Linked DNA regions of Homo sapiens: regions 2 and 3 are each linked to region 1. Evidence: fine-mapped expression QTL. A gene starts in region 1. Each other region holds a variant in brackets. All regions are shown on one strand. Distances are from middle to middle. Region 1 holds the start of DENND5A (DENN domain containing 5A). Region 2 overlaps DENND5A (DENN domain containing 5A). Region 3 has its middle 17 kb from the start of WEE1.

Region 1 (10,699 bases):
CTGAGCTATGTAAGTTAACTGTGTGGAGTGCACCTTCTTAGAGACTCCTTAATACCTTCTTGGAGAACCTGGCTACAAATTACAATTTCCTGTAGTTAGTTACTGAGTATGATATCATCAGTTTGGGAGCTACAAGGCAGGCTGAGGAGAGAAAATGCACCCTGGAGACTCTCAGGAAGAACCTGCTATTTGTACTCTGCTTTGTTTTATTCAAAGATTCCCTCTGGGAGTGGTGGCTCACGCCTGTAATCCTAGCATTTTGGGAGGCCGAGGTGGGCAGATCACTTGAGGTCAAGAATTCAAGACCAGCCTGGCCAACATGGTGAAACCCCATCTCTACTAAAGATACAAAAATTAGCCTGATGTGGTGGCACGCGCGGCTCATAATCCCAGCTACTCGGGAGGCTGAGGCAGAATTGCTTGAACCTGGGAGACGGAGGTTTCAGTGAGCCACTATTGCAGCACTGCATTCCAGCTGGGGCAACAGAGTGAGACTGTGTCTCAAAAAAAAAAAAAAAAAAAGATTCCCTCTGGATAGTTCAGATTCCCCTACCAACCCACCAGAAATGAAATGAAGAGGGAAAAAAAATCCTTCCAACACTGCATACTCTAACAAAGGCCACCTATCGGAAATGTGGTCTCGGCATTCCACTACTGCAACCACATTTTTAAAAAAACAGAAAATACCCCTCTTTACACATTTTATACAACTCATCCCCCTTTCTTTATTATCCCAATAAACTTTCACAAGGATATAATTTTAGCTTGCCAAAAAGCCAGATAATTAACACATATCCATTAAGACAGTAACATTTCTTTTTTAATGAAATGTTGAAAGACAGTTTTTAAACATTTTTGAAGGTCTACTTGATGAGATTATTTTTATTTACATTCTTTTTTTATAGATGAGGACCCTGACAGGGTTATCTCTAACTTGCTCCCAATCACAAAGATAGTCAATAGGAGAGCAGGAATATTACCCTAAACTCATGCTCTCGCTAACAGTTAACTTCCCAGCTTCATTCTTATGCTCTATCATTCGCAAAACATTCTATCTTCTCAAACCAAGTGTTCATACAATTTGACACTCAAAAACACGCATAAAAAAAAGTTTATTCCACCACCTTAGTTTCTTTTACTGAGAAGAATTATGTTGTTTTTAATATTTCTCAACATGTTAGTGTTTTCTAAAGACCTCCAGCCAGGCCAATGAGATGCAGTTTAATGTCATGAGAAGAGCACTGGACCAAGCAATTAACTAGTGTATACAGGCCCCACTGTCCTTCCTGGGCCTCATTTTCCCCTCTGAGGTCCCTTCCAACACCAATACCCTGAACCGAATTCCAAAAATTACATCAAAGTCACAAACTTACTACATATGAAAAAGATGAAAAACATCTGTACTATAAGAATTTGAAGACCTTAAAAGATAAACTTGAACAATTATTAGGTACTCATCAAAATAATTTTTTTTTTTTGGACGGAGTCTCGCTCTGTCGCCCAGGCTAGAGTGCTGGAGTGCAGTGGCGCGATCTGGGCTCACTGCGAGCTCCGCCTCCCGGGTTCACGCCATTCTCCTGCCTCAGCCTCCTGAGTAGCTGGGACTACAGGCGCCCGCCACCACGCCCGGCTAATTTTTTGTATTTTTAGTAGAGACGGGGTTTCACCCTGTAAGCCCGGATGGTCTCGATCTCCTGACTTCGTGATCCGCCCGCCTCAGCCTCCCAAAGTGCTGGGATTACAGGCGTGAGCCACCGCGCCCGGCCTAAAACTAAAATTTTTTTAAAGTAAATTAGAAACCATAAAACTACCCCGACAAAAAGCCTAATATTAATTATATTACTGCTTCATATTTTCTCCACCTGCTATTGAGGAAATAGCTCATTTTTTTCTAACCTTGTTAAAGCATGAATTTATCATGCTTTTTTCTTCTTTTTCTTTTTTCCCAGACAGAGTCTCGCTTTATCACCCAGACTGGAGTGTAGTGGCGCAATCACCCAGACTGGCGCAATCTCAGCTCACTGCAACCTCCCCCTCCTGGGTTAAAGCGATCCTCCTACCTCAGCCTCCTGAGTAGCTGGGATTACAGGCACGCGCCACGACGCCCGGCTAATTTTTGTATTTTTAGTAGAGACGGGGGTTTCACCATGTTGGCCAAATTGGTCTCGAACTCCTGACCTCAGGTGACCCGCCCGCCTCGGCCTCCCAAAGTGCTGGGATTACCCCTGAGCCGCCGGGTGGTGGGCCACCGCGCCCCGCCTAATTTTTTTTTCATAAGAAACACTGGGCCGGGCGCGGTGGCTCACGCCTGTAATCCCAGCACTTTGGGAGGCCGAGGCGGGTGGATCATGAGGTCAGGAGATCGAGACCATCCTGGCTAACAAGGTGAAACCCCGTCTCTACTAAAAATACAAAAAATTAGCCGGGCGCGGTGGCGGGCGCCTGTAGTCCCAGCTACTCGGGAGGCTGAGGCAGGAGAATGGCGTGAACCCGGGAAGCGGAGCTTGCAGTGAGCCGAGATTGCGCCACTGCAGTCCGCAGTCCGGCCTGGGCGACAGAGCGAGACTCCGTCTCAAAAAAAAAAAAAAAAAAAAAAAGAAACACTGGACTTTTTCTGGTGCCCAAAAACAAAACTGTCTTGTCATCGTTGAAGCCGAGTAAGATTAGTCAACAGGATAATCACTTTCGAAAGAGAAACTTTACAGTGACAGAAAAGTGAAAAGGAGTCCCCCTCATCAGGATGACACAACCTTAAAGTACAACCCGACAAACCTCCACCCACTTGAAACCCACTAACTGGAAACTCCAGACAAAAACTTATTTTCAAAACTGTTACAATTCAAAGACTCCAATGACAGTGCAGTGGAAAATTCACGGGGACTGTATAATTTTCACGGCCTTCTGCAGTGAGTGCCAAATCTGGTCAGGGCCCCATCTTTGACTCCCCTCATCACTTTCCCTTTCAAATATGACTTGAAACGCATCAGAACACACCAAGCCTCTCCAACTACAATGCTGCTACCCTTTTATTCACAAACGCCTCTGTCCTCATAAAGGACATAAATTACTTTTCAAAAAAGGCATGGCCCCGGGATACAAGCCCTTTCCAAGGCTAAGGGAGTTCCTACTCTTCTTGGTGCCGCCCAAGTTCACTTTATTACTTCATATCCCATCCAGACGCGCAGAGCTGCAATCTGACTCAGGGGGCCCAGCCCAGGGCTGGGGTATAACGGTTTTGAGGAACTAGTATCACAAGCTTCTTGGGAAGTGGCCAGATAAACTCACCAAGTTTTTGTTTTCCTTTTTTTTAAGTCTGGGTGGAACTTACTTTCACTAGGACGTGGGACGCCTTCCCTCCCTAATGGGTGCCAGAGGACAAGCTTTCCTTTATTTTAAACGAAGTCACTCAACCTACACCAAACTGAGAACACACAACCCTCCCTCTTTCTGGTCGCCGAAGACGTGGCCACTGCGCAGCGGGCCGTAGGTTTGGACCCCTCATGGCTCAGAGCCCCTCATCCGTTTCCCCCCTCCAGTCCAAAGCCCCCTTCGCCCGCGCCCGCCCTGGTCCTCCCGGCCGACACTCGCCCGGCTCCCGGGACAAAGCGGGGCTGAAGGAAGGTTTCTTCTGGGGTCCCCGACGACAGCGGGCGCGGGAAAGCGCCCCGGGCTCGGCGCGCACTCACCCGACAGCTCGTCCGGCTCCAGCCCGGTCTCCGTGTCCAGTCCGCAGATGACAAAGTAGTCGGCGAAGCGACTGGGCGCCGAGCCCCCTCCGCCGCCGCCGCCACTCATGGCGCCGGGGCCGAGACCGGCCGGGCAGTGCGGAGCGGCACCGAGCCCCCGCAACCCGGGCGCCCGCCCGTCCGCCCTCAGGCCGCCCCTCCCGCCGCCGCCGCTACCGCGGCTCGGGCCGCCGCCCCCGGCCCTGGCCCGGTCCCCTCGGCCGCCGCGGCTGCCGTGACGGGGCGGGGGGGCACCGGGCCGCCCCGCACCGCATCCTGGATGCCTTCCCCTCCGCGCCGCCGCCGCTGCAGCTAGCCGAGAGCGCCGCGGCCCGAGCGAGCCTGGAGAAGGGCGGAGAGCGCGTGGACAGCCCCCACCGTGACCCTCCTCCTACCGCGCCTGCGCAGGCGCCGTCTGGGAGGGGGCGGGCTCCTGGGGGAAAGGATGACGTGATGCTCTTCGGACCCCGCCGGCCGCAGCTTCCCGGGAGGTCGCCGCAGCGCAGCCGGTGACTGCTTGGTCGCCCGCAACTGCCACTCCCCCGGGATTGAGACTCCTTTAGGGAGGGCTGAGGAGGTGCGAGAAGAGTGGGCGCAGCCTGCAGAGCCGGGCATTTGGCCCATGCTCTGCCCCCAACCACCCACCCAGCAAGCAGAGGTCCAGAGATCTTAGCGCGGCCTTGCCATGAGGATGGGGTCTCACGACTGAGCTCGGAAGCTCACCTAATCCTAGCTGCAGCGTGTCAGCCTAGACCCCAGACAGGGCCTTCTCCCTGTCCTCTCTTTTGGCAGGGGCGGATGAGCCGGTTTTATATTTACCCTTATTTTACAGACGGGGAAACTGAGTCTCAGAAAGAAGCAAGGACTTATCCAAGGTTACGCTGAGTCTAAGAGACATAAGCCTGGTCTGGAATCCTGGGCTTGTGGTCAGCTCCCCGTTCCTCGCCGCTCCCACCTCCCAGCCTGCCCTTTTCCCACGCTCTCTCCTTTTTTCTCTGGAAGCCTCCAGAGGCGCCTGCCATTTGGGAGCTCCTCTTCCTCTTCACTCTGTGAAAACTCTCAGATCCACCCCTAAACCTGTTTTCCTGTAAGAGGATAGGGAGGAGGCGAAGGGAAACTTACCTATTGGTCCTTGTCCTAGGACCCTCCGATTTCCTTTCCCATAGAAGCTAGGCAGATGTGTCTTTGTTGGAAACTGGAGATCAGAGGCCAGAAAGGCAACACAGGTATAGTGGTCACTAGCATGGGCTCTAGAAAAAAATGCTCGGATTTCAATCCTGACGATCATTTACTTTTGACCTTGAGCAAGTTAATCTCTAAGTGCCTGGCGTCATGGTTTTTGAGACAATTACATAAGGTAAATGCAAGTACAGGTAAAACAATGAGAATACTGCCTGGAACATGGAAATCACTCAGTAAATATTACAGATTTTTTTTTTCAAGACGGAGTTCTGTCTTGTTGCCCAGGCTGGAGTGCAATGGCGTAATCTCGGCTCACTGCACCTCTGCCTCCCAGGTTCAAGTGATTCTCCTGCCTCAGCCACCCAAGTAGCTAGGATTACAGGCGCGCACCACCACACTCGGCTAATTTTTTGTATTCAGTAGAGACAGGGATTCACCGTGTTGGTCAGGCTGGTCTCGAACTCCTGACCTCAGGTGATCCGCCCTCCTCTGCCTCCTAAAGTGCTGGGATTACAGGCATGAGCCAATGAGCCCCCAGCCTGGATTATTATTATTGTTCCAGAAGGAAGTACTCTTACGGTTTGTTCTGGGAGGCTGCCACTAAGAGCTGTAGAAGGCAGCTGGCTTCCCCAAAGGCTGAGCCTAGGCTCTCTCCTAGGTTCTCCTGGGTACTTCTCTCAAATATTGTTTCCCTTGGGGAGGTTTACCTAGAGGTTATAGCCATTGTCTCTCGGAGCCATAGCACCTGTTCCTCCCTGTATCTAACCTGCCTGAACTAGGGGGAGAAAAGTGGGGAGGAGAAGGTTGCTTCAAAACGCCCATTCATGGTGATGCTCCACCCGTATCCTGCATGCTGGGGACACAGAGACAGTAGAGGGGGATTAGTGAGTTAAACAGTCACAGAGGCTGGGCGTGGTGGCTCACACCTGTAATCCCAGAACTTGGGGAGGCCAAGGCTGGCGGATCGCTTAAGGTCAGAAGTTCAAGACCAGCCTGACCAATATGGTGAAATCCCATCTCTACCAAAAATATAAAATTAGCAGGGTGTGGTGGCAGGCAACTTTAGTCCCAGCTCCTCAGGAGGCTGAGGCAGGAGAATCGCTTCAACTCAAGAGGCAGAGGTTGCAGTAAGCCGAGATCGTGCCACTGCACTCTAGCCTGGGCAACAGAATGAGGCTCTACCTCTAAATAAATAAATAAATAAATAAATAAATATGCCAGGCGTGGTGGCTGACACCTGTAATCCCAGCACTTTAGGTGGCCAAGGCAGGCAGATCACGAGGTCAGGAGATCAAGACCATCCTGGCCAACATGGTGAAACCCCATCTGTACTAAAATTATAAAAATTAGCTGGGTATGGTGGTGCCTGTAATCCCAGCTACTCAGGAGGATAAGGCAGGAGAATTGCTTAAACTCGGGAGGTGGAGGTTGCAGTGAGCCAAGATGGCGCCACTGCACTCCAGCCTGGCAACAGAGACACCCTGAAAAAAAAAAAAGAAAAAAAGAAAGTTACAGAGCACAGAAGGAGGACATCTTTCCAGATTGGGGAATGGTCAGGGAAGGTTTCCAGAAGGAGGTATATACTCTGACCTGAGTTCCAGAGGATCAACAGGAAGTTTCTCAGGTAAAAAGGGGCAGGGAAAGATGTTTAACTCAGTATGTGTAACAACAGGGAGCAACAGATAAAAGGGTATGTTCAGGCATCAACAAGTAATTCATTAACATTAAGATGGGAGATGGAGAGTTTAAAGGGAATGAAACCAGGGCAGGGGAGGAAGAAGGAGAACAGAGGAAGGAGGCATGGATTCAAATACCAGGCTAAAGAATTTATCCTCGGCCAGGCGTCGTGGTTCACACTCACGCTGGTAATCCCAACACTTTGGGCAGCTGAGGCAGGAGGACTGCTTGAACCCAGGAGTTTGAGACCAGAGTGGAGAACATAATGTGACCCCTGTCATAAATAAATAAATAAATAGTATTTTTTAGAAATAATTTATCCTATAAGATATATGAGTTGAGGATGAGTGAGGTAAAGTAAAGGAATTCAAGCCAAGGAGTGATATCTGACCCAAATCTGAGAATGATCACTCTAGGGGTGATGTGGAAAAAGAAATTTGAGAAAGGAATAAACGTCCTCAACTGAAAAGTCCAGAAACTTTTTATCCAAGGTGTCCAGGGTGATCTGGTGCTAGACGACCTCTCATATTAACTCAACTCGTAAAACACAAGTTAAAAACGAATGCATAACTGTATTAATTTGCCCTGGGAAATGTAACTGCTCAGAAGCCCAGAATACTCAACTGTGAAGTGATCTCCTTCCCGGTAGGAAATAAGTTTGGCAGAGTGATTGCTTCTTAGAGAGTCAGAAAATATAGAAAGGGATGCTCTTAAGATTTTTTCTTTTTTTTTTTTTTTTTTTTTCTGAGAGAGTCTCGCTCTGTCACCCAGGCTAGAGTGCAGTGGCGCCATCTCGGCTCACTGCAACCTCCGCCTCCCAGGTTCAAACGATTCTCCTGCCTCAGCCTCCCAAGTAGCTGGGACTACAGGCGCGCGCACCATGCCTGGCTAATTTTTTTTTTTTTTTGTATTTTTGTTTGTTTGTTTTTTGAGATGAATTCTCGCTCTGTCGCCCAGGCTGGAGTGCAGTGGTGATCTCTGCTCACTGCAAGGTCCGCCTCCCAGGTTCACACCATTCTCAGCCTCAGCCTCCCGAGTATCAGGGACTACAGGTGCCCGCCACCTGTAGTGGCTAATTTTGTTGTATTTTTAATAGAGACGGGGTTTCGCCCTGTTAGCCAGGATGGTCTCAACCTCTTGACCTCGTGATCTGCCCGCCTCGGCCTCCCAAAGTGCTGAGATTACAGGCGTGAGCCACTGCGCCAAGCCAAGATTTAATGTTTTTTTGTTTGTTTGAGACAGAGCCTCGCTCTGTCACCCAGGCTGGAGAGCAGTGGCACAACCTCAGCTCACTGCAACCTCTGCCTCCCGAGTTCAAGCTATTTTCCTGCCTCAGCCTCCTGAGTAGCTGGAACTACAGGCCTGCGCCACCATGCCGGGCTAATTTTTTTTTTAGTAGAGACGGGGTTTCGCCATGTTGCCCAGGCTGGTCTCGAACTCCTGACCTCAGGTGATCTGCCCACCTTGACTTCCCAAAGTGCTGTGATTACAGGCGTGAAGATTTAATGTTTAAATCCACTCCCACTCTTACTAGCTGTGTAAGCTGGGGTACATCAGTTAAACACTCTGAAATGAGAAGAGTCATTCTGACCCCTCACAGAATTGCACTGAAGATTCATAAATTAATGGAAAAAGGAATTTTTAAAATCTGGGACATAATATACTTTTAATAAGTGGCAATCTGGGACACCCATTTTAGCATGAGGAACATGAGAGAGCAAGTGGACATCTGAGGGAACATAACTCCAGGAGAGGGTGTGCGGCAGAGTGTGCCTGGAGTGTTCATGGAGCAATAAGGAAGCCAGGGTGGCTGGAGAGGGTTAGGGTGGGGAGGATTGGTGGAAGATGGTAGAAGGTGTGGTGGAGTTGGCTTGCAATTCAAAAACATCAATTTTCCCTTCCATAGTGTGTGGACCCGCCTCCTCAGGGACACTGCCCAGCCCTACTTGCATCCAGATGTGGCCATGTGACTAGTTCTCAACAATGGAATGTGTGTAGGACTTTATGTATGTCACTGCTAGGTCAGGGCACTTAAGAAGCAGATTAGACTTCTCCCTTCTTTCTATTTTTGCCTTCTACCAGCTAGAATTAGAAGATTCTGAGGCTCTAAGTAATGGTAAAGCACATGGAGGAAAGGCTCCAGCTGACCAAGAATACCCACACCGGACTGTCCTGTGAACAAAAAATAAACTTCAGTTGTGTGAAGCCACTGGTACTGTGGGGTTTATTTGTTACAACAGCTAGTATTAACCATCACCAAAGTAGATGTTGGGTAAGAGGATAAATCATGGAGAGCCTTGTAGGCACACTGGAAAGATTTTGCCATTGTCTGAATAAAATGAGAAATCACCGGAGAGTTTTGAGCAAAGGAGTGACACAATCTGACAGCTTAAAAAGAAACACGTAGCACTGTTTTAAGAACTTTACATATATTAACTCTAACTGGAATTTACCCCCGGACTCTAGCTTTATATACCCAACTGACTTGTCATCTTTTTTTAATTATAATTTTTTTTTTTTGAGATGCAGTCTCACTCTGTCGCCCAGGCTGGAGTCCAGTGGCACAATCTTGGCTCACTGCAAGTTCAGCCTCCCGGGTTCACGCCAGTCTCCTGCCACAGCCTCCCGAGTAGCTAGGACTACAGGCGCCCGCCACCACGCCCGGCTAATTTTGTTTTGTATTTTTAGTAGAGACGGGGTTTCACTTCGTTAGCCAGGATGGTCTCGATCTCCTGACTTCCTGATCCGCCTGCCTCGGCCTCCCAAAATGCTGGGATTACAGACGTGAGCCACCGCACCCGGCCATTTAATTATAATTTTTTTTTAATTAAGATGGGTTTTCACCATGTTGCCCAGGCTGGTCTGGAACCCCTAGGCTCAAGGGATCCTCCCACCTCAGCCTCCTAAAGTGCTGGGATTACAGGTGTGAGCCACTGAACCCTGCCTCAACAAGTGTTTTGAAACCATCAATTTGAAGAGACAGGAGATTACTTGCCTTTTTATTACTCCCTCCAGTCTTGCTTCTTGCCTTGAAGGAATGCACGAACAGCAGGGCTATATCTTGCAAGTCTATACCTTGCAAAAGCAACACCAAACTAGAGAGAAGGGAGAATATGATCACAACAGATCAGTCTAAGTAAGAGTGGAGGGAATGAATCCTTAGGAAAGGTCCACACAGATCCACTCACAGAGCCAAACCCCGTTTTGAAAACCTGAATGAGGTATTGACATATATCTTGGATCAAGTATATATAATTGCAAATATACATAATTTGCTGTTTGTAACAGCAAAAACTGTTATAATTACTGTTTGTAACAGCAAAAACTGAAAACAGAGCTGGGCGTGGTGGCTCACACCTGTAATCCCAGCACTTTGGGAGGCCGAGGCGGGCAGATCACCATGTCAGGAGTTTGAGACCAGCCTGGCCAACATGGTGAAACCCCGTCTCTACTAAAAATACAAAAATTAGCTGGGCCTGGTGGCTCGCGCCTGTAATACCAGCTTCTCAGGAGGCTGAGGCAGGAAAATCGCTTAAAACTGGGTGGCAGAGGTTGCAGTGATCGTGCCACTGCACTCCAGCCTGGGAGACAGAGCAAGACTCCGTCTTGCAGGAAAAACAAAACAAAACAAAACAAAAAAACTGAAAACAATCCAAATGCCTAGCTATAGAAGACAGATTAAAGAAACTATAGTTTCTGCCAACGCTGGAATACTATGCAGCTATAAAACAAAACAAGAGCAAGAAAAAAATAAGGAAAAACTGTGTAATATGTTATCAAATGTATAAAAAAGAGAAAATAAAAGAATTTTTTTTTGTATATGCATAGTCTATTTTTGGAAGCATAAACAAAACATTGTTAAAATTGATTGCTTCAGGTGTGGTGGCTCACGCCTGTAATCCCAGCATTTTGGGAGGCCAAGGAGGGCAGATCACTTGAGACCAGCCTGGCCGACATGGTGAAACCACGTCTCTACTAAAAATACAAAAAGTAGCCAGGCATGGTGGCGGGCACCTGTAATTCCAGCTACTCAGGAAGCTGAGGCAGGAGAATCGCTTGAACCCAGGAGGCGGAGGTTGCAGTGAGCCGAGATTGCACCATTGCACTCCAGCCTG
Region 2 (10,699 bases), 26 kb before region 1:
TACCATATAAATATCCCAATAATACAATATTATTCAGCCATAACAAGGAATAAGGTGCTGACACATGCTACAACATGGATGAACCTTAAAAACATCCTGCTAGGCTGGGCGGGGTGGCTCACGCCTGTAATCCCAGCACTTTGGGAGGCCAAGATGGGCAGATCACTGGAGGTCAGAAGTTCGGGACCAGCTGGCCAATGTGGTAAAACCCTGTCTCTACTAAAAATACAAAAATTAGCTGGGCACGATGGCGGGCACCTGTAATCCCAGCTACTCAGGAGGCTAAGATAGGAGAATTGTTTGAACCCAGGAGATGGAGGTTGCAGTGAGCTGAGATCGCGCCACTGCACTCCAGCCTGGGCGACAGAGCAAGACTCTGTCTCAAAAAAAAAAAAAAGAAAAAAAATCACGCTACCTGAAAGGAGCCAGACACAAAAGCCAAACACAAAAGGCCACATGTTGCATGATTCCACTTACATGAAACATCCAGAATAGGTAAATCCAGAGAGAGAAAGCAGACTACTAGTTGCCACAGGCTTGGGAGACAAGGAAATGAGAAGTAACTGTTTAATGAGTGCAGCATTTTCTTTTGAGGAGATGAAAATGTTCTGAAACTACATGATGCTGATGGCTACACAAAACCATAAATATACTAAACACCACTGAATTACACATTTTTAAACGGGCTAGGTGCAGTGGCTCATACCTGTAATCTCAGCACTTTGGGAGGACAAGACAAGAGGACTGCTTGAGACCAGGAGGTCAAGACCAGCCTAAGCAACAAGGTGAGAATCCATCTCTACAAAAAATTTAAAAATTAGCCCAGTAGTCCCAGCTACTCAGGAGGCTGAGGCAAGAGGATCACATGAGCCCAGGAGGTCGAGGCTGCAGTGAGCCATGTTTGCACCACTGCACTCCAGCCTGGGCAACAGAGGGAGACCCTGTCTCAAAAAAAAAAAAAAAACAAATAAAGTTCGCTGGGCGCAGTGGCTCGTGCCTATAATCCCAGCACTTTGGGAGGCCGAGGCAGGCGTATCACCTGAGGTCAGGAGTTCGAGATCAGCCTGGCCAATATGGCGAAACCCTGTCTCTACTAAAAATGCAACAATTAACTGGGCATGGTGACGGGCACCTGTAATCCCAGCTACTCAGGAAGCTGAGGCAGGAGAATTGCTCAAACCCAGGAGGCAGAGGTTGTGGTGAGCCAAAATTGCACCACTGCACTCCAGCCTGGGCGACAAGAGCAAAACACCACCTCAAAAAAAGAAAGAAAAAAAAAAGAAATATTTAGCATTTTTAAATAGTAAATTAAAAATGGAAGACACAAGCTAGGCATTGGGCACAACCCTGTAATCTCAGCTACTCGGGAGGCTAAGGCAAGAAGACTGCTTGAGCCCAGGAGTTTGAGACCAGCCTGGGCAACAAAGCAAGACCTCTGCCTCGAAAGAAAGAAAAAGAAAAAGATGAAAAGGAAGAGAGAGTGAGAGCAAAAAGGAAGGAAGGAAGGAAGACAGGCAGGCAGGCAAAGGATACAAAATTGTATTTCTCTGATGATCCCAATTTTATAAATATATATTATGTGTATGTATATATTATTTCATTGTGACTATGTTTGAAGTTTTGATATATTTCCTGACAACCTGTTTTTAATGCACAGAAATATATTTAGAACACATACAACAAAATATTCGTAACAGAAAAAGAGTTTCCACAAATCAATCAGAAAAAAAGATAAACACCACAACAGAAATATGGACAAAAGGCCTGAACAGACAATTCATAGAATAAACAAATGTATATGAACTATATGAAAAGATGTTCAGCCTAATAATTAAATTCAGATTAAAACAAGATATGTTTGGGCCGGCACGGTGGCTCACGCCTGTAATCCCAACACTTTGGGAGGAAGAGATGGGCAGATCACCTGAGGTCAGGAGTACAAGACCAGCCTGACCAACATGGTAAAACCCCGTCTCTACTAAAAATACAAAAAATTAGCCAGGGGTGTGGTGGCACACGCCTGTAATCCCAGCTACTTGGGAGGCTGAGGCAGGAGAATAGCTCTTGAACCCAGGAGGCAGAGGTTGCAGTGAGGCAAGATTGTACCACTGCACTCCAGCCTGGGCAGTAAGAGTGAAACTCCGTCTCCAGAAAAAAAGATATGTTCTTCCTAGCAGATTGGAAACGTTTCAGAAAAGCGGTAACACTTTATTACAGGTATAAAGAAACTGGAATGTTAAACATTACTAGCAGAGGTCTAAATTGGCACAATTTTTAAGGAAAGTAATTTAGCAATATCTATTAAAATTTAAAATGCACATTTCTTGGGCCAGGTGCAGTGTGGCACATGCCTGTAATCCCAGCACTTTGGGAGGCCGAGGCAGACAGATCACCTGAGATCAGGAGTTCGAGACCAGCCTGACCAACTTGAAACCCCGTCTCTACTCAAAATACAAAAATTAGCCGGGCGTGGTGGCAAGCACCTGTAGCCCCAGCTACTAGGGAGGCTTAGGCAGTAGAATCGCTTGAACCCAGGAAGCAGAGGTTGCAGTGAGCCGAGATTACACCACTGCATTTCAGCCTGGGCGACAGAGCGAGGCTCCATTTCAAAAAAAAAGTACATTTCTTGGATTCACCAAAGTCCAGTTTTAGCAATTAATGCTCCAGAAAAACCCCTACAAGTGTGTAAAAATAAGTGTACATGGATATTTGAAAAAAGAAAAATCTTAAATACTCCACGGGTCCACCAGAAAGATCTTTGTTTTGATGTGGGATCATCTTTTAAGATGTTGTCTGTTATCTCATATACAACATGTTAATTTGATATGAATTCAACTTGAGTGGGTTTTTTGAGTGGGTCTCTGCTCCTTATAATTAACTCTTAACTAAGATCGATGGAATTTCAGGAGCATACTCACGATACAGTATCAAGAAATATTCATGATAGAACATCAAGTGAAAAAAGTCAAAACAAAATTTTACATTACACATTATCACTCTGTTAAAATATATACACATACACCTACACATAGTAAAATCTGGAAAGAACTGATCTGGGTGATGATTAAATGCATGTGTGTGTGTGTATATATATATATTAAGCTATATACTTATATACTTAGAATTTGTGCACTTTACTGTCTTTAAATTACTTTTTTTTTTTTTGAGATGCAGTCGCGCTCTGTCACCTAGGCTGCAGTGGCGCCATCTCGGCTCACTGCAACCTCTGCTTCCCGGGTTCACGCCATTCTCCTGCATCAGCTTCCCGAGTAGCTGGGACCACAGGCGCCCGCCACCAAGCCTGGCTAATTTTTTATATTTTTAGTAGATGGGGTTTCACCATGTTAGCCAGGATGGTCTCGATCTCCTGACCTTGTGATCCGCCCGCCTCGGCCTCCCAAAGTGCTGAGATTACAGGTGTGAGCCACTGTGCCCGGCCCAAAAATATTTTTTAACTGAAAGGAACTATATAAAGGCATCAACATGCTTATAAAGCCTAATTCCAGATAAAGGGATAATGAGTGAATTATTTCCACATCCTTCTATAATTTCTTTTTTCTTTTTTTTTTTTTTGACACCTAATTTTCACTCTTGTTGCCCAGGATGGAGTGCAGTGGCTTGATCTCGGCTCATTGCAATTTCCGCCTCCTGGGTTCAGACGATCCTCCTGCCTCAGCTTCCTGAGTAGCTAGGATTACAGGTGCACGCCACCACACCCGGCTAATTTTTGTATTTTTAGTAGAGACCAGGTTTCACCATGTTGGCCAGGCTGGTCTTGCACTCCTGACCTCAGGTGATCTGCCCACCTCAGCCTTCCAAAATGCTGGGATTACAGGTGTGAGCCACTGCGCCCGGCCTACATCCTTCTACAATTTCTAAGTTTTCTATTAGAAACTGTATTTTAAAACTCAACATTTTATTTATTTATTTATTTATTTAAGAGACAGGAGCCTCACAACGTTGCCCACGCTGGACTCAAATTCACGGGCTCAAGCAATCTTCCTGCCTCAGCCTCCCAAGTAGCTGGGACTACAAGTGCACACCACCACACCTGGCTAAACTTTTTTTTTTTTTTTTTTTGAGACAGGGTCTTGTTCAGTTGCCCAGGCTGGAGTACAGTGGTGTCATCATGACTCACGGCAGCCTCAACCCCTCAGACTCAAGCAATCCTCCTGCCTCAGCCTCCCAAGTAGCTGAGACTACAGGCATGCACCACTACACTCAGCTTTTTATTTTTTGTAGAGACAAGGTCTTGCTATGTTGCCCAGGCTGGTCTCGAAATCCTGGGCTCAAGCCATCCTCCTGCCTCCGCCTCCCAAGTAGCTGAGACTACAGGCATGCACCACTACACTCAGCTTTTCATTTTTTGTAGAGACGAGGTCTTGCTATGTTGCCCAGGCTGGTCTCGAAATCCTGGGCTCAAGCCATCCTCCTGCCTCTGCCTCCCAAAGTGCTGGGATTACAGGCATGTGCTACCATGCCTGGCCAACGTTTTATTTTTAAAGAGAGAAAAATGCCATTCCTTATATGGATGACCTTCATGTTTCTTTCCTATCCCAAGAGTTCAAATCATGGTTCCCTCACTTTCTAGTTGTGTCCCTCTCTTTCAACCCTCAGATTCTATAATTTATGTATAGTCCCTCGGGTATTTTTCCACATATTAAGTGATTATTAAATTAATCAATGAATAAATCATAGAGATTATGTTTTTGTTCAGGGTCACACCCAGAGCTACGCCCTCTATAGTAAATTTTCCAAGACATAAACTGCAAAGCTAGATAATAGTACTCTTTCCCTCTCTTGAACCCCAACAACACACCATCATCTGTTCCTTTTAAAGAACTGATCCTAGGCTGGGCGTGGTGGCTCACGTCTGTAATCCCAGCATTTTGGGAGGCCAAGGCTGGTCAGGAGTTTGAGACCAGCCTGGCCAACATGGTGAAACCCCATCTCTACTAAAAATACAAAAATTAACCAGGCGTTGTGGTGAGCACCTGTAATCCCAGCTACTCGTTGAGGCTGAGGCTGGAGAATCGCTTGAACCCGGGAGGTGGAGGTTGCAGTGAGCCAAGGTTGCACCATTGCACTCCACCCTGGGCGACAAGAGTGAAAACTCCGTCTCAAAAACAAACAAACAAACAAAAACTGATCCTGACTGGGCGCAGGGGCACTCGCCTGTAATCCCAACACTTTGGGAGGCCAAAGCAGGCAAATTACTTGAGTCCAGGAGTTAGAGACCAGCCTGGGCAACGTGG[T/C]GAAAACCCATCGCTAGAAAAAAGACAAAAAATATACAGGATTGGTGGCACCTGCCTGTAGTCGCAGCTACTCAGGACGATGAGGTGGGAGGATCACTTGAGCCCTGGAGGCAGAGTTTGCAGTGAGCTGAGATGGTGCCACCGTACTCCAGCCTGGGCAACAGAGTGAGACCCTGTCTCAAAACAAAAAAAAAGAACTGAAGAACTGATCCTTTCCTGCCTTGTTTCAGTGTGCCTGCCCTTCTCTTCTCTAGCACTCAACATAGACCCTGATAGGGGTTATAGGTGTTGATTTTATTCCTGACAGGCAACTACCCATGACAGGATCACAAAACCTCAAGTAGAAACAAAAAATGTGGCTGATAGATGTGGTATGAGGTATGTTAACAACCAGCTAATAATTCAACTTCTAAACTTAAGCAGTCCAAAATTTGGAAGTTCTTTCATGTGAATAGTTGTCTTGACAGAGACTCATCTTCCCTAGTAACTCTGTCTGTGTATGTGCATGTCTGTGTGTGATGTTTGTGTATTCTTCCCCTCATGTAATCCTCACAAGCTGATCCAAGTCCCCATAACTAGAAAGTGAGGAAGCCATAATTTGAAACCAGAACTGAAAGACTCTAAAGCCAAAGCTCTACAGTTATTCGGGTACTGAACTTAAAGCTACATCAGTCCTAAGAATTTGCAGTCATGTAGGTGCGTAACATTAAAACTCTTACAGTAGCCAAAACTGTGGTTCTCAAACCTTAGTATGCATCAGGACAGTGGCTTGTTAACATACAGGTTTCTAGGCCCCATCCCCAGAGTTTATGATTCAGCGGGTAAAGGGTGGGGTTAAAATGTACATTTCTAAGAAGTTCTCAGGTGATGCTGATACTACTGGTCCAGAGACCAGACAACGAGAACCACTGGCCTATAAAGCCCTACATCTTTCCCCCACACTCCCTCTCCCTTCCTCTCTAATCTCATCTTCCCACCACTTGTCCCCTCACTTACTACCTCCAACCTCAGTAACATTGTAAACAATTCTAATACATCAAGTATACTCCTAGCTTATGGCCCTCGCACAGGCTCTTCTCTCTGCCTGAAATACGTTTCTCCACATATACATATGGCTCACTCCTTTGACTCCTTAGAATTCTCCTGAAATTGTCATCCTCTCAGTGAGGTATACCCTGACCATCCTATTAAAAGTACAACATCAGCTGGGCGCGGTGGCTCACGCCTGTAATCCCAGCACTTTGGGAGGCCAAGGCGGGCGGATCACCTGAGGTCGGAAGTTCAATACCAGCCTGATAAATGTGGAGAAACCCCATCTCTACTAAAATTACAAAATTAGCCGGGCATGGTGGCGCATGCCTGTAATCCTAGCTATTCGGGAGGCTGAGGCAGGAGAATCGCTTGAATCTGGGAGGTGGAGGTTGTGGTGAGCAGAGATTGCACCATTGCGCTCCAGCCTGGGCAACATGAGCGAAACTCCGTCTCAAAAAAAAAAAAAAAAAAAAAAGTACAACATCTGTCTCCACCCTGCCCTAACATTCCTGATCCCATTAACCCTGTTTACTGTTTCCACAGCACTTTTCACTTCCTAACATACTATGTAAATTACTGGTTCATTATGTTTATTTTTCAATGTCTCCCTCCACTAAAACCAAAGCTTCACAAAGGCAGTTTCACTCATTGATGTGTCTTAAGAACCTAAAATAGTGACTAGTAAATAACGGGAACTCAGTAAATAAGAGCTGAAGGAGGGAATAAAAAACAGAGAAAACTAACTTTGAGATCTTCTAGACAATCACTGATTGCAAGACACTCACTCTCAATTATAAACATACCTTCGTTATATCATTTATCACAGTGCATTGTCATTATTGGCTTACACGCCTAACCCCTCAGAAGACTATGAGCCCCTTAAGGACAGTGACTGTCTCACTTACACATCTTTGCAAACAAGTGCCCCATCACTAAGTTGGTCTTTCAATAACACAAAAGTAGAAGACTTTAGAGACAGGGAGAACAGGCTTCCAATTCTTGCTTTATAGTCTCGGGCATGTTATTCAAACTCTCTGCACTTTAGTTTCCTAATCTCCAACATGGGGATAATACCATCTAATACCTGGCATTGAAATGTATTCAATAAAAAAACAACCATTAACTTAAATATCATCTATGAATAACAGGGATGGAATGTTACCAGCCTCATGTTTTTGGCCCCCTATGACCCACAGTGTACTAGTGAGCAGGATGGTCAGCTGAGGCTAGCATAAAAGGGGGTCGAGGCCAGGCGTGGTGGCTCACACCTGTAATCCCAGCACTTTCGGAGGCCGAGGCGGGTGGATAACGAGGTCAGGAGTTCGAGACCAGCCTGGCCAACATAGTGAAACTCTGTCTCTACTAAAAATACAAAAATTAGCCAGGCGTGGTGGCACTCACCTGTAATCCCAGCTACTCGGGAGGTTGAGGCAGGAAGATCACTTGAGCCCAGGAGGCAGAAGTTGCAGTGAGCTGAGATTGCACCACTGCACTCCAGCCTGGGCGACACAGCGAGACTCTGTCTCAAAAAAAAAAAAAAAAACAAAAAAAAAAACTGAGGCGAGTAAGGCTAATTGGAATAACTGCTCTTCTGGAGACTAACTCAATGACTTTGGCCTCATTAAATGCACCACACTCATAACTAACTGAGCTAAGTAGTTAACAGAGCTAGATGGGCAGACTGACAATCCTCCACAAAACACTAAACATTCTTCTAGTAGATAAAATTCAAAATGTACTACTTTTAATACGCAGGGGAAAGAATGTACTTCACACAGATGTTGTGAGAAAATGGGGTGGGGTATATTAGATTAAATATTTAACAAAGAAAGGGATTACACACTACGGTTGACCCTTGAACAACATGGGTTTCAACTGTGTGGGTACACTTATACATAGATTTTCTTCCACCTCTGCCACTCCAAGACAGTAAGACCAACTCCTCCTCTTCCTCTTCAGCCTACTCAGTGTGAAGATGATGAGCATAAAGACCTTTTAAATGATCCACTTCCACTTCCTGAAGGATAAATATATTTTATTTCCCAGCCAGGCACGGTGGCTCACACCTGCAATCCCAGCACGTTGGGAGGCCAAGGTAGGCGGATTACAAGGTCAGGAGTTTGACACCAGCCTGGCCAATATGGTGAAACCCTGTCTCTACTAAAAATACAAAAATTAGCCGGGCGTGGTGGTGGGTGCCTGTGGTCCCAGCTACTTGGGAGGCTGAGGCAGGAGAATCACTTGAACCTGGGAGGCAGAGGTTGCAGTGAGCCAAGATCACACCACTGCACTCCAGCCTGGGCGACAGAACGAGACTCCATCTCACACACACAAAAAATAATATTTTATTTCCCTTATGATTATGTTTTCTCTAGCTTACTTTATTGTGAGACTACAGTATATAATACATTTAACATACAAAATATGTGTTAATTAACTATTTGTGTTATTGGTAAGGTTTCCAGTCAGCAGTAGGCTGTTAGTAAAGTTTTCAGGGAGTCAAAAGTTACTTGTGGATTTTCTGCTACACAGAGAATTAGTGCCCCTAACCCCCAACTTGGTTCAAGAGTCAAGTGTATTTGGACATACAGAACCTCAGAGTTCAGCAAAACTGGATGTTGGTTTAGCAGATGATACTCCTAAATTTCTATTGTATTTCTGCTGTGGTTTAAATGTGTCCTTTCCAAAATTCAGGTGTTGCCAATGTGATAGTATGAAGAGGTGAGGCCTTTAACAGGTGATTAGGCCATGAGAGCTGCTCCCTTGTTAATGGGATTAAGGCCTTTTTTAATTTATTTATTTTATTTATTTTTATTTATTTTTTTGAGACGGAGTTTCGCTCTTGTTGCCCAAGCTGGAGTGCAATGGTGTGATCTCAGCTCACCGCAACCTCCGCCTCCCAGGTTCAAGTGATTCTCCTGCCTCAGTCTCCCAAGTAGCTGGGATTACAGGCATGTGCCACCACGCCCAGCTAATTTTGTATTTTTAGTAGAGACCGGGTTTCTCCCTGTCAGTCAGGCTGGTCTTGAACTCCTGACCTCGGGTGATCCGCCCGCTTCGGCCTCCCAAAGTGCTGGGATTACAGGCATTAGCCACCACGCTCAGCCTATTTTATTTATTTATTTATTTTTGGAGATAAGGTCTGGCTCTGTCACTCAGGCTAGAGTGCAGTGTCACTATCTCAGCTCACTGCAACCCCACTTCCTGGGCTCAAGCAATCCTCCCACCTCAGTCTCCTGAGGATCTGGGACTACAGGCACACGCAACCCAGAAAGCTAATGTTTGTATCTTTATTCATAGAGACAGGGTTTCGCCGTGTTGCCGGGGCTGGTCTCGAACTCCTGGGCTCAAGCGATCCACCCTCCTTGGCCTCCGAAAGTGCTGGGATTACAGGCGTGAGCCACCGTGCTTGGCTCCAAGGCCCTTTTAAAAGAGGCTTCAGGCCGGGTGCGGTGGCTCATGCCTGTAATCCCAGCACTTTGGGAGGCCAAGGCGGGTGAATCACGAGGTCAGGAGACCAATACCATCTTGGCCAACATGCTGAAACCCCGTTTCTACTAAAAATACAAAAAAATTAGCTGGGCATGGTGGCACGCGCCTATAGTCCCAGCTACTCAGGAGGCTGAGGCAGGAGAATCGCTTGAACCCAGGAGGTGGAGGCTGCAGTGAGTTGAGATAGTGCCACTGCACCTGAGCCTGGCGACAGAGCAAGACTGTCACCAAAAAAAAAAAAAAACACAAAAAAAACAAAAAATGCAGTGGCTCATACCTGTAATCCCAGCACTTTGGGAGGTCAAGGCAGGAGGATTACCTGAGGTCAGCAGTCCGAGACCAGCCTGGCCAACATGGTGAAACCCCATCTCTACTAAAAATACAAAAATTAGCTGGGCATGGTGGTGCATACCAGTAATCCCAGCTACTCGAGAGGCTGAGGCAGGAGAATTGCTTGAATCCGGAAGGCGGAGGTTGCAGTGAGCTGAGATCGCAACACTGCACTCCACCCTGGGCTACAGAGCAAGACTCCGTCTCGGGGGAAAAAAGTCCGAATAGGCAGCCTCTATTTTTAATTTAATTTTATTTATTTATTGTTGAGAGGGAGTCTCACTCTGTCCCCTAGGCTGGAGTGCAGTGGCACGATCTTGGCTCACTGCAACCTCCGCCTCCCAAATTCAAGTGATTCTCCTGCCTCAGCCTCCCAAGTAGCTGGGACTACAGGCGTGGACCACCACGCTCAGCTAATTTTTGTATTCTTAGTAGAGACGGGGTTTTACCATGTTGGCCAGGCAGGTCTCAAACTCCTGACCTCAGGTGATCCGCCTGCCTCAGCCTCACAAAGTGCTGGGATTATAGGCGTGAGCCACCATGCCCAACCTATCTCTTCATAATTAATACAACAAATATTCATTAAGCAC
Region 3 (10,699 bases), 290 kb after region 1:
CTAGTTAATGCAATTAGACAATGGAATAAAAGTCAAAATACTAAAGTGGATGAGAGCATTATTATCAATTACCTGATTGTCGGCCTAGAAATCCAAAATGATCAAATGAATAGTTGTTAGAACTAATACAAGAGAGGCCGAGCGTGGTGGCTCACGCCTGTAATCCCAGCACTTTGGGAGGCCGAGGCGGGCGGATCACGAGGTCAGGAGATCGAGACCATCCTGGCTAACACGGTGAAACCCTGTCTCTACTAAAAAATATAAAAAATTAGCCGGGCATGGTGGCGGGTGCCTGTAGTCCCTGCCACTCGGGAGGCTGAGGCAGGAGAATGGCGTGAACCCGGGAGGCAGAGGTTGCAGTGAGCCGAGATCACGCCACTGCACTCCAGCCTGGGCGACAGAGGGAGACTCTGTCTCAAAATAAATAAATAAATAAATAAATAAATAAATAAATACAAGAGCACAGAATATTCTTTCTATATTTCTTTTATTTGCACTTATTTTATAATGGTTATTTTTCTGTGCTGTGTTGTTTCTAACAATTGGCTGACAAGCATACTGACAGAGCCAATTGTTTCTAACAATTGGTTTCAAGCACACAGGACCCTGAAAGTCAGCAGAGCTTGGTAGTGGAGGCTGAGAGTGGGGATGGGATGGGCAGAAACAGTTACAGCTTGGATCCCTCAAAAACCTTAAATGGGGCTGGGTGCAGTGGCTCACGCCTGTAATCCCAGCACTTTGGGAGGCCGAGGTGGGCAGATCACTTGAGGCCAGGAGTTCGAGGCCAGCCTGGCCAACATGGTGAAACCCCATCTCTACTAAAAATACAAAAATTAGCTGGGCGTGGTGGCTGTGCCTGTAATCCCAGCTACGTGGGAGGCCGAGGCATGAGAATCACTTGAACCTGGGAGGTGGAGGCTGCAGTGAGCCAAGATCGTGCCACTGCACTCCAGCCTAGGGGACAGAGCAAAACCTTGTCTCAGAAAAACAAAACAAAACAAAAACCTTAAATGGAAGGCAGGCGATGGCAGTCAACATCAGCCAGAGTGTGTGTGAGCAATCCTAATGTTCTGAGGCTAGAATGGGGTTGGTGGAGGAGACACAACAGAGCCTTTAACGCTGCTCTTGACATTGCACTGCACCACATTGAAGTGAGGCTACAATGAACCAGAGGGATCCAGGAAGCCCTCTTCCTTATCAGCACCTCTCCACGGACTGCAGGCAGAGCAGAAAGCTGTTTGTCTGACGGTGGCGGGAAGGTCATTCCAGATGAAGAAACCAGATTAAAAAACAGAAGCACAGGCTCCTTTCCCAAGAGCAAAGCTAGAGGAGGGACAAAGCCACGTGAGGAAATGAGGAAGGGTCAGGCATATGTGGCTTGAAAGAGAGGAGAGCTCTAAGTATATCAGAAAAGGCAAGGGGATGGCTCTTCAGGACTCATGTCGTAATTCTGTCTGCCCTATCCTGTTTCAGAGATGACAAGGCCTTCCTCCTGGCTCTCTCTTTAGTAGGCACCTAAGCACTTTGACTTATTGTTCTCTCATTCAATCCATGCAACAACTCTTAGAAGTCAGATTTTTTGACAGTTTTTAAAATTTACTTATAAAAATTTATTTTTAATTTTCGAGGGTATGTAGTAGGTATATATGTTTATGGGGCATATGGGATATTTTGATACAGCCATACAATGTGTAATAATCACATCAGGGGAAATGAGGCATCCATCCCCTCAAGCATTTATCCTTTGTGTTATAAATAATCCAATTATACTCTTTTAGTTTTTTTTTTTTTAGAGATGGAGTCTTGCTCTGTCACTCAGGCTGGAGTGCAGTGGCACGATCTTGGCTCACTGCAAACTCTGCCTCTCAGGTTCAAGCAATTCTTCTACCTCAGCCTCCCAAGTAGCTGGGATTACAGGCATGCACCACCATGCCTAGTTAATTTTTGTATTTTCAATAAAGACGGGGTTTCACCATGTTGGTCAGGCTGGTCTCAAACTCCTGACATCAGGTGATCCTCCCCCCTCGGCCTCCCAAAGTCCTGGGATTACAGGCATGAGCCACTGCGCCTGACCTGTATGTCTCCTTTTGATAAATGTCTATTCAGATATTTGGTGAGCCACTGTGCCCGGCCAATCCAGTTTTAAAATGGGCAAAAGATCTGAATAGACATTTATCAAAAGGAGACATACAGATCAGGCACAGTGGCTCATGCCTGTAATCTCAGGACTTTGGGAGGCCGAGGCGGGTGGATCACCTGAGGTCAGGAGTTCGAGACCAGCCTGACCAACATGGTGAAACCCTGTCTCTACACAAAAAGTTAGCTGGGCATGGTGGTGCATGCTTGTAATCCCAGGTACTTGGGAAGCTGAGGCAGGAGAATTGATTGAACCCAGGAGGGGGAGGTTGCAGTGAGCCGAGATTGCACCACTGCACTTCAGCCTGGGCTACAGAGCAAGACTTCATCTCAAAATAAATAATAATAAATAAATGAGGCCGGGCACGGTGGCTCACACCTGTAATCCCAGCACTTTGGGAGGCCGAGGCAGGCAGATCACGAGGTCAGGAGATCAAGACCATTCTGGCTAACACGGTGAAACCCTGTCTCTACTAAAAATACAAAAAAATTAGCCGGGCATGGTGGCGGGCGCCTGTAGTCCCAGCTACTCAAGAGGCTGAGGCAGGAGAATGGCATGAACCCGGGAGGCAGAGCTTGCAGTGAGCTGAGATGGCACCACTGCACTCCAGCCTGGGCGACATCGAGACTCCATCTCAATAAATAAATAAATAAATAAATAAAATTAGATTATTAGATTTTTTCCTATAGAGTTGTTTGAGCTCCTTATATATTCTGGTTATTAATTCCTTGTCAGAAGGATAGTTTGCAAATATTTTCTCCTATGCTGTGGGTTGTCTCTTCACTTTGCTGTTTCCTTTGCTGTGCAGAAGCTTTTAAACTTGATGTGATCTCATTTGTCCATTTTTGCTTTGGTTGCCTGTGCTTGTGGGGCATTATTCAAGAAACCTTTGCCCAGTCTAATGTCCTGGAGCGTTTCCTCAATATATTCTTTAGTAGTTTCATAGTTTGAGGTCTGAGATTTAAGTCGTTAATCCATTTTGATTTGAGTTTTGTATATAGTGAAAGACAGGGGTCTAGTTTCATTCTTCTGCATATGGATATCCAGTTTTCTCAGCACCATTTGTTGAAGACGCTGTCTTTTCTCCATTGTATGCTCTTGGCCCCTTTGTTGAGAAATGAGTTCACCTTAGATGTATGGATTTGTTTCTGGGTTCTCTATTCTGTTCCATTAGTCCATGTGTCTGCTTTTATGCCTGTACTATGCTGTTTTGGTTACCACAGTTCTGTAGTATAATTTGAAGTCAGGTAATGTGATTCCTCCAGTTTTTTTGTTTTTGTTTTTGTTTTTTTTCTCAGGATAGCTTTGGCTATTTTGGATCTTTTGCAGTTCCATATAAATTTTAGGATTGTGTTTTCTCTTTCTGTGGAGAATGTCTTTAGTATTTTGATAGGTATTGTATTGAATACATAGATTACTTTGGATAGTATGGACATTTTAACAATATGGATTCTTCCAATCCATGAACATGGACTATTTTTCCTTTTTTAATGTCCTCTTCAATTTCTTTCAATAATGTTTTATAGTTTTCATTGTAGAAATCTTCCACTTCTTTGGTTAAATTAATTCCTAGGTATGTTATTTTATTTGTAGCTATTGTAAATGGGATTACTTTTATGATTTTTCACATTGTTTACTGTTGGCATATAGAAACATTTTTTATTATTTTTTAATTTTTAATTTTAATTTTTAGTTAGTTATTTTTTGAGACGGAGTCTAGCTCTGTCACCAGGCTGGAGTGCAGTGGCGTGATCTCAGCTCACTGTAACCTCCGCCTCCCGGGTTCAAGCAATTTTCCTGCCTCAGCCTCCCAAGTAGCTGGGATTACAGGCACACACCGCCATCCCCAGCTAATTTTTGTACTTTTAGTAGAGATGGGGGTTTCACCACATTGGCCAGGATGGTCTTGATCTCCTGACCTCGTGATCTGCCCACCTCAGCCTCTGAAAGTGCTGGGATTACAGGCCGATTTTAAAATTTATTTTAATTTATTTTTTATTTTTTATTTTTTTGGGGGAGGATGAAGTCTTACTCTGTTGCCTAGGCTGGAGTGCAGTGGTGCGATCTCAGCTGACCGCAATCTCTGCCTCCCAGGTTCAAGTGATTCTCTTGCCTCGGCCTCCTGAGTAGCTGGGACTATAGGTGCGCACCACCATGCTTGGACAATTTTTGTATATTTAGTAGACACAGGGTTTCACCATGTTGGCCAGGCTGGTCTTGAACGCCTGACCTTGTGATCCACCCGCCTCTGCCTCCCAAAGTGCTGGGATTACAGGCTTGAGCCACCATGCCTGGCCTAGAAATGATTTTTATATGTTATGTTCTCTTTTTTTTTAACCCAATAATAGCTGTGTGTACTGATATATGTTGATTTTGCATGTTGACTTTTGTATATTGTTTTATTTCCTGCAAGTTTACTGAATTTGTATATCTGTTCTAATAATTTTTTAGTGGTGTCTTTAGGTTTTTCTAAATATAAGATCATATCATCTGCAAACAAGGATAATTTGAT[T/G]TCTTCCTTTCCAATTTGGATGCCCTTTCTTTCTCTTTCTTGTCTGATTGCTCTAGCTGGGACTTCCAGTACCATGTTGCATAACAGTGATGAAAGTGGGCATCCTTGTCATGCTCTAGATCTTAGAAGAAAGACTTTCAGTTTTTCACCATTGAGTATGACACTAGCTGTGGGTCTGTCATGTAGGGCTATGTTGAAGTATGTTCTTATTTTTTTTTTTTTCCAGACAGAGTTTCACTCTTGTCACCGAGGCTGGAGTGCAATGGTGCAATCTCGGCTCACTGCAACCTCCGCCTCCTGGGTTCAAGTGATTCTCCTGCCTCAGCCTCCTGAGTAGCTGGGATCACAGGTGTGCGCCACCATGCTTGGCTAATTTTTTTGTATTTTTAGTAGAGATGGGGTTTCACCATGTTGGTCAGGCCGGTCTCGAATTCCTGACCTCAAGTGATCCACCTACCTTGGCCTCCCAAAGTGCTGGGATTTCAGGTGTGAGCCACCGCGCCCGGCCAAAACATGTTCCTTCTACACCCAGGTTTTTTTAGGGTTTTTATAATGAAGGGATGTTGAATTTTATCAAATGCTTTTTCAGTGTGAATTGAAATGATAGTATAGTTTTGTCCCTCATTCTGTAGATATGATGTATTGCATTGATTGATTTGCATATGACATCCTTGCATCCTTGCGTCCTTGCATCCCTGGGATAAATCTCACTTGGTCATGATGAATCATCTTTTTAATGTGTTGTTGAATTCAGTTTGCTATTAAGGTGAGTGCAAAACTATTGCAGTTTTTGCATTGTTGGAATTTGCCGTTTGATGTTGGAATACATTCTTCAATAAATGTGGTTAGGTCATACATCATTTTAATGGACATTTCTCGCTTTATGTTTTCTTGCTAATGACTTATTATTTGTTGTTTATTTTATGTTTATTTTAGACTACGGAAATTATGTTAGACAAAAAGCAAATTAGAGCAATTTTCTTATTTGGGTTCAAAATGGGTCATAAAGCAGCAAGAAAACTCATAACATCAATAAGGCATTTGGCCCAGGAACTGCTAATGAATGTACAGTACAGTGGTGGTTCAAGAAGTTTTGCAAAGGAGACAAGAGCCTTGAAGATGAGGAGTGTATGGCCAGCCATCAGAAGTTGACAATGACCAATTGACAGCAATCATCAAAGCTGATCCTCTTACAACTACATGAGAAATTGCCAAAGAACTCCACCTCGACCATTCTATGGTCATGTGGCATTTGAAGCAAATTGAAAAGGTGAAAAAGGTGGGAAAAAAAGGTGAAAAAAAGGTGTCTTGATAAGTGGGTGCTTCATGAGCTGAGCAAAAATTTTAAAAAATGTTGTCTTGAAGTGTTGTTTTCTCTTATTCTATGCAATAACAGTGAACCATTTCTTGATCGGATTGTGACATGTGACAAAAAGTGGATTTTATACAACAACTGGTGACGACCAGCTTAGTGGTTGGACTGAGAAGAAGCTCCGAAGCACTTCCCAAAGCCAAACTTGCACCAAAAAAGGTCATGGCCACTGTTTGGTGGTCTGCTGCTGGTCTGATCCAGTATAGCTTTCTGAATCCTGGCAAAACCATTACATCTGAGAACTATGCTCAGCAAACGGACGAGATGCACCAAAAACTGCAACAACTGCAGCCAGCATTGGTCAACAGAAAGGGCCCAATTCTTCTCCAGGACAACACCCAAACACACGTCACACAACCAACGCTTCAAAAGTTGAGCAAATTGGGCTATGAAGTTTTGCCTCATCTGCCATACTCACCTGACCTCTCACCAACTGACTACCACTTCTACAAGCATCTCAACAACTTTTTGTACGGAAAACGCTTCCACAACCAGCAGGATGCAGAAAATGATTTCCAAGAGTTTGTTGAATCCTGAAGCATGGATTTTTACACCATAGGAATAAAGATTTCTCACTGGCAAAAATGTGTTGATTGTAATGTTTCCTGTTTTGATTAATAAAGATGTGTTTGAGCCTAGTTATAATGATTTAAAATTTACAGTCTGAAACCGCAATTACTTTTGCAGCAACCTAATAGTATTTGGTTGAGGATTTTTGCATCAATGTTCATCAGGGATATTGGCCTGTTGTTTTCTTTCTTTTTTCTTTTCTTTCTTTCTTTTTTTTTTTTTTTTTTGATGTGTCTTTGTCTGGTTTTGCTATCAGGGTAATAATGGCCTCATGGAATGAGTTTGAAAGTATTCCCTCCTCCTCAATTTTTTTGAATAGTTTGAGTAGGATTGGTATTAGTTATTTAAATGTTTGGTAAAATTCATCAGTGAAACTATTGAGCCCCAGGCTATTCTTTGCCAGCAGACTTTTTATTTTGGCTTTGAAATTGTTACTTACTATTGGTCTGTTAAAGTTTTGAATTTCTTCATGGTTCAACTCAGTAGGTTTCATGTATCTAGAAATTTATCTATTTTTTTCTAGGTTTTCCAATTTGTTGGCATATACTTACTCATAGTAGTACCTAAGATCCTTTGAATTTCTTGGTATCAGTTGTAACGTCTCCCTTTTCAAAACCTCTCATTTTATTTATTTCGGTCTTCTCTCTTTTTTTCTTAGTCTGGCTAAAGGTTTGTCATTTTGTTTATCTTTTCTTTCTTTCTTTTTTTTTTTGAGACGGAGTCTCGCTCTGTCACCCAGGCTGGAGTGCAGTGGCACGATCTTGGCTCACTGCAAGCCCCGCCTCCCAGGTTCACGCCATTCTCCTGCCTCAGCCTCCCGAGTAGCTGGGACTACAGGCGCCCACCACCAGGCCCAGCTAATTTTTTGTATTTTTTAGTAGAGACGGGGTTTCACCGTGGTTTCGATCTCCTGACCTTGTGATCCCCCCCACCTCAGCCTCCCAAAGTGCTGGGATTACAGGTGTGAGCCATCACGCCCGGCCTTATTTGTCTTTTCAAAAAATGATTTTTTTGTTTTCATCCTTTGTATTATTTGTTTCAATTTCATTTATTTCTGCTCTGGTCTTTATTATTTCTTTTCTTCTACTGACTTTGGGTTTGGTTTGTGCTTGCTTTTCTAGTTCTTTAAGAGACACCATTAGGTTGTTTACCTGAAGTTTGTATGTTTGTTCATTTGTTTGTTTGAGACAGAGTCTCACTCAGTCACCCAGGCCGGAGCGCAGTGGCCAATCTTGGCTCACTGCAACCTCCGCCTCCCAGGTCCAAGCAATTCGCATGCCTCAGCCGCCCAAGTAGCTGGGACTATAGACATGTGCCACCGTGCCTGGCTAATTTTTTTGGTATTTTTAGTAGAGATGGGGTTTTGCCATGTTGCCCAGGCTGGTCTCAAACTCCTGAGCTCAAACAATCTGCTCAGCTTGGCCTCCCAAAGTGCTGGAGTTACAGGCATGAGCGACTACACCCAGACTTTTTATCTTTTTTGATGTAGGCACTTATAGCCATAAACTTCCCTCTTAGTACTGCTTTCACTGTATCCCACAGGTTTTGATATGTTGTGTTTCCATTATTGTTTCAAGAAATTTTTAAATTTTCTTATTAATTTCTTAGTTCACCCACTGGTTATTCAGGAGCATATTGTTTAATTTTCATGTGTTTGTATAGTTTCTAAAATTCCTCGTTATTGATTTCTAGTTTTATTTCATTGTGGTCAGAGAAGATCCTTGATATTATTTTTTTTTTTTATGCTTTAAGACTTGTTTTGTGGCCTCACATATGATCTGTCCTTGGGAATGATCCATGTGCTGAGGAGAAGAATGTCTATTCTGTGACCATTGTGTGAAATGTCCTATAAATATCTATTAGGTCCATTTGATCCATAGTGCAGATTAAGTCTGATGTTTCTTTGTTGATTTTCTGTCTGGATGATCTGTCCAATGCTGAAAGTGGGGTGTTGAAATCTTGTGCTATTATTGTAGTGGAGTCTGTCTCTCTCTTTATCTCTAATAATATTTGCTTTATATATCTGGGTGCTTCAGTGTTGGGTGCATATATATTTACAATTGTTATATTCTCTTGCTGAATTGACCCCTTTATCATTATGTAATGACCTTCTTTGTCTCTTTTTATAGTTTTTGTCTTTTTTTCTTGAGACGGAGTCTCACTCTGTCACCCAGGTTGGAGTGCAGTGGTGCAATCTCAGCTCACTGCAACCTCCACCTCCTGGGTTCAAGCAGTTTTCCTGCCTCAGCCTCCTGAGTAGCTGGGATTACAGGTGTGTGCCACCATGCCAGGCTAATTTTTGTATTTTTAGTAGAGATGGGGTTTCACTATGTTGGCCAGGCTGGTCTCGAACTCCTGACCTCAGGTGATCTGCCCGCCTCGGCCTCCCAAAGTGCTGGGATTACAGGTGTGAGCCACCACACCCAGCCTTGATTTTGTCTTGAAATCTGTTTTGTCTGTTATAAGCACAGCTACTTCTGCTCTTTTTTTAGTTTCCATCTGCATAAAGCATCTTTTTCCATCCCTTTATTTTCAGTTTATGTGTGTCTTTATAGGTGAAGTGTGTTTCTTGTAGGCAACAGATCATTGAGTCTTTTTTAAAAAAAATCCATTCAGCCACTCTGCATCTTTTGATTAGAGAGCTTAGTCCATTTACATTCAATGTTATTATTGATAAGTAAGGACTTACTCCTGCCATTTTGTTATTTGTCTTCTGGTTGTTTTTGGTCTTCTCTTCCTTCTTTCCTTCCTTCCTGTCTTCCTTTTAGTGAAGGTGATTTTCTCTGGTGGTATGTTTTAATTTCTTGTTTTTTATTTTTTGTGTATCCATTGTATATTTTTAGATTTGAGGTTACCATGAGGCTTGCAAATAATATCTTATAACCCATTATTTTAAACTGATGACAATGTAACACTAATTGTGTAAACTAACTAATAAACAAAAAGGAAACTAATAAAAACTAATACAAACTTTAACTTTGTCTCCCCACATTTTAATTTTTTGTTGTTTCTATCTTATTGTACTATGTCTTGAAAAGTTGTTGTAATTATTATTATTATTATTATTATTATTATTATTATTATTTTGAGATGGAGTCTTGCTCTGTTGCCCAGGCTGAAGTGCAGTGGCACGATCTCAGCTCGCTGCAAACTCTGCCTCCTGGGTTCAAGTGATTCTCCTGCCTCAGGCTCCCGAGTAGCTGGGATTATAGGCATGTGCCACCATGCCCAGCTAATTTTTGTATTTTTAGTAGAGATGGGGTTTCACCGTGTTAACCAGGTTAGTCTCCATCTCCTGACCTCGTGATCCGCCCACCTCGGACTCCCAAAGTGCTAGGATTACAAGTGTGAGCCACTGCACCCAGCCTGTAATTATTATTTTTGATTGGTTCGTCTTTTTGTTTTTCTACTTAAAATATGAGTAGTTTACATACCACAATGACAGTGTTAGAATAGTCTGTGTTTTTCTGTGTAGTACTTATTATTACCAGTAAGTTTTGTACCTTCAGATGATTTTTTTTTTTTTAATTTTTTTTGACAAGGTCTCACTTTGTCACCCAGGCTACAGTCCAGTTGCTTGATTATAGCTCACTGTAGCCTCCCAGGCTCAAGCGATCCTCCTGCCTCAGCCTCCCAAAGTGCTGGGATCACAGGCATGAGCCTCTATGCCCAGCCAATTAAAACAATTTTTTTTTTTGTAGAGGTGGAGTCTCACTGCATTGCCCAGGCTGACCTCAAACTCTTGGGTTCAAGCAATTCTCCCACCTTGGCCCAGATGATTTCTTGTTGCTCATTAACATCATTTTCTTTCAGATTGAAGAACTCTTTTTAGCATTTCTTGTAGGATAGATCTTGTGTTGATGAAATCCTTCAGCTTTTGCTTGTCCAGGAAAGTCTTTACTTCTCCTTCACGTTTGAAGGATATTTTCATCAGATATAGTAATACTATTCTAGGGTAAAAGTTTTTTTTTCCTTCAGCATTTTAAATATTGTCATGCCACTCTCTCCTGACCTGTAAGGTTTCCATCGAGAAGTCTGCTGCCAGACCTATTGGAGCTCCATTGTATGTTATTTGTTTCTTTTCTCTTGCTGGTTTTAGAATCCTTTC

What was found. PIP is the estimated chance that this variant, and not a neighbour inherited with it, causes the effect.
Region 2: its variant is the best candidate, but not a certain one, in a credible set for the expression of DENND5A in whole blood (TOPMed, PIP 0.50).
Region 3: its variant is the best candidate, but not a certain one, in a credible set for the expression of DENND5A in whole blood (INTERVAL, PIP 0.88).

The regions. Positions count from the first base shown.
Region 1 is chr11:9,261,275-9,271,973 of GRCh38, forward strand. It overlaps DENND5A (DENN domain containing 5A), which reads right to left and starts at 4,076. Exons shown (of 23, transcript NM_015213.4): 1 at 3,687-4,076. The coding sequence starts at 3,795. RefSeq lists enhancers at 2,608-2,947, 3,108-3,227, 4,308-4,377 and silencers at 3,518-3,877, 3,928-4,027.
Region 2 is chr11:9,235,275-9,245,973 of GRCh38, forward strand. The region is part of intron 1 of DENND5A (DENN domain containing 5A); the gene reads right to left. Among named protein-coding and RNA genes, the nearest start is that of DENND5A, 25 kb to the right of the region's middle. The variant T/C (reference allele first, on the strand shown) is at 5,256.
Region 3 is chr11:9,550,825-9,561,523 of GRCh38, forward strand. No RefSeq gene overlaps it. Among named protein-coding and RNA genes, the nearest start is that of WEE1, 17 kb to the right of the region's middle. RefSeq lists a cis regulatory region at 974-1,602. The variant T/G (reference allele first, on the strand shown) is at 4,650.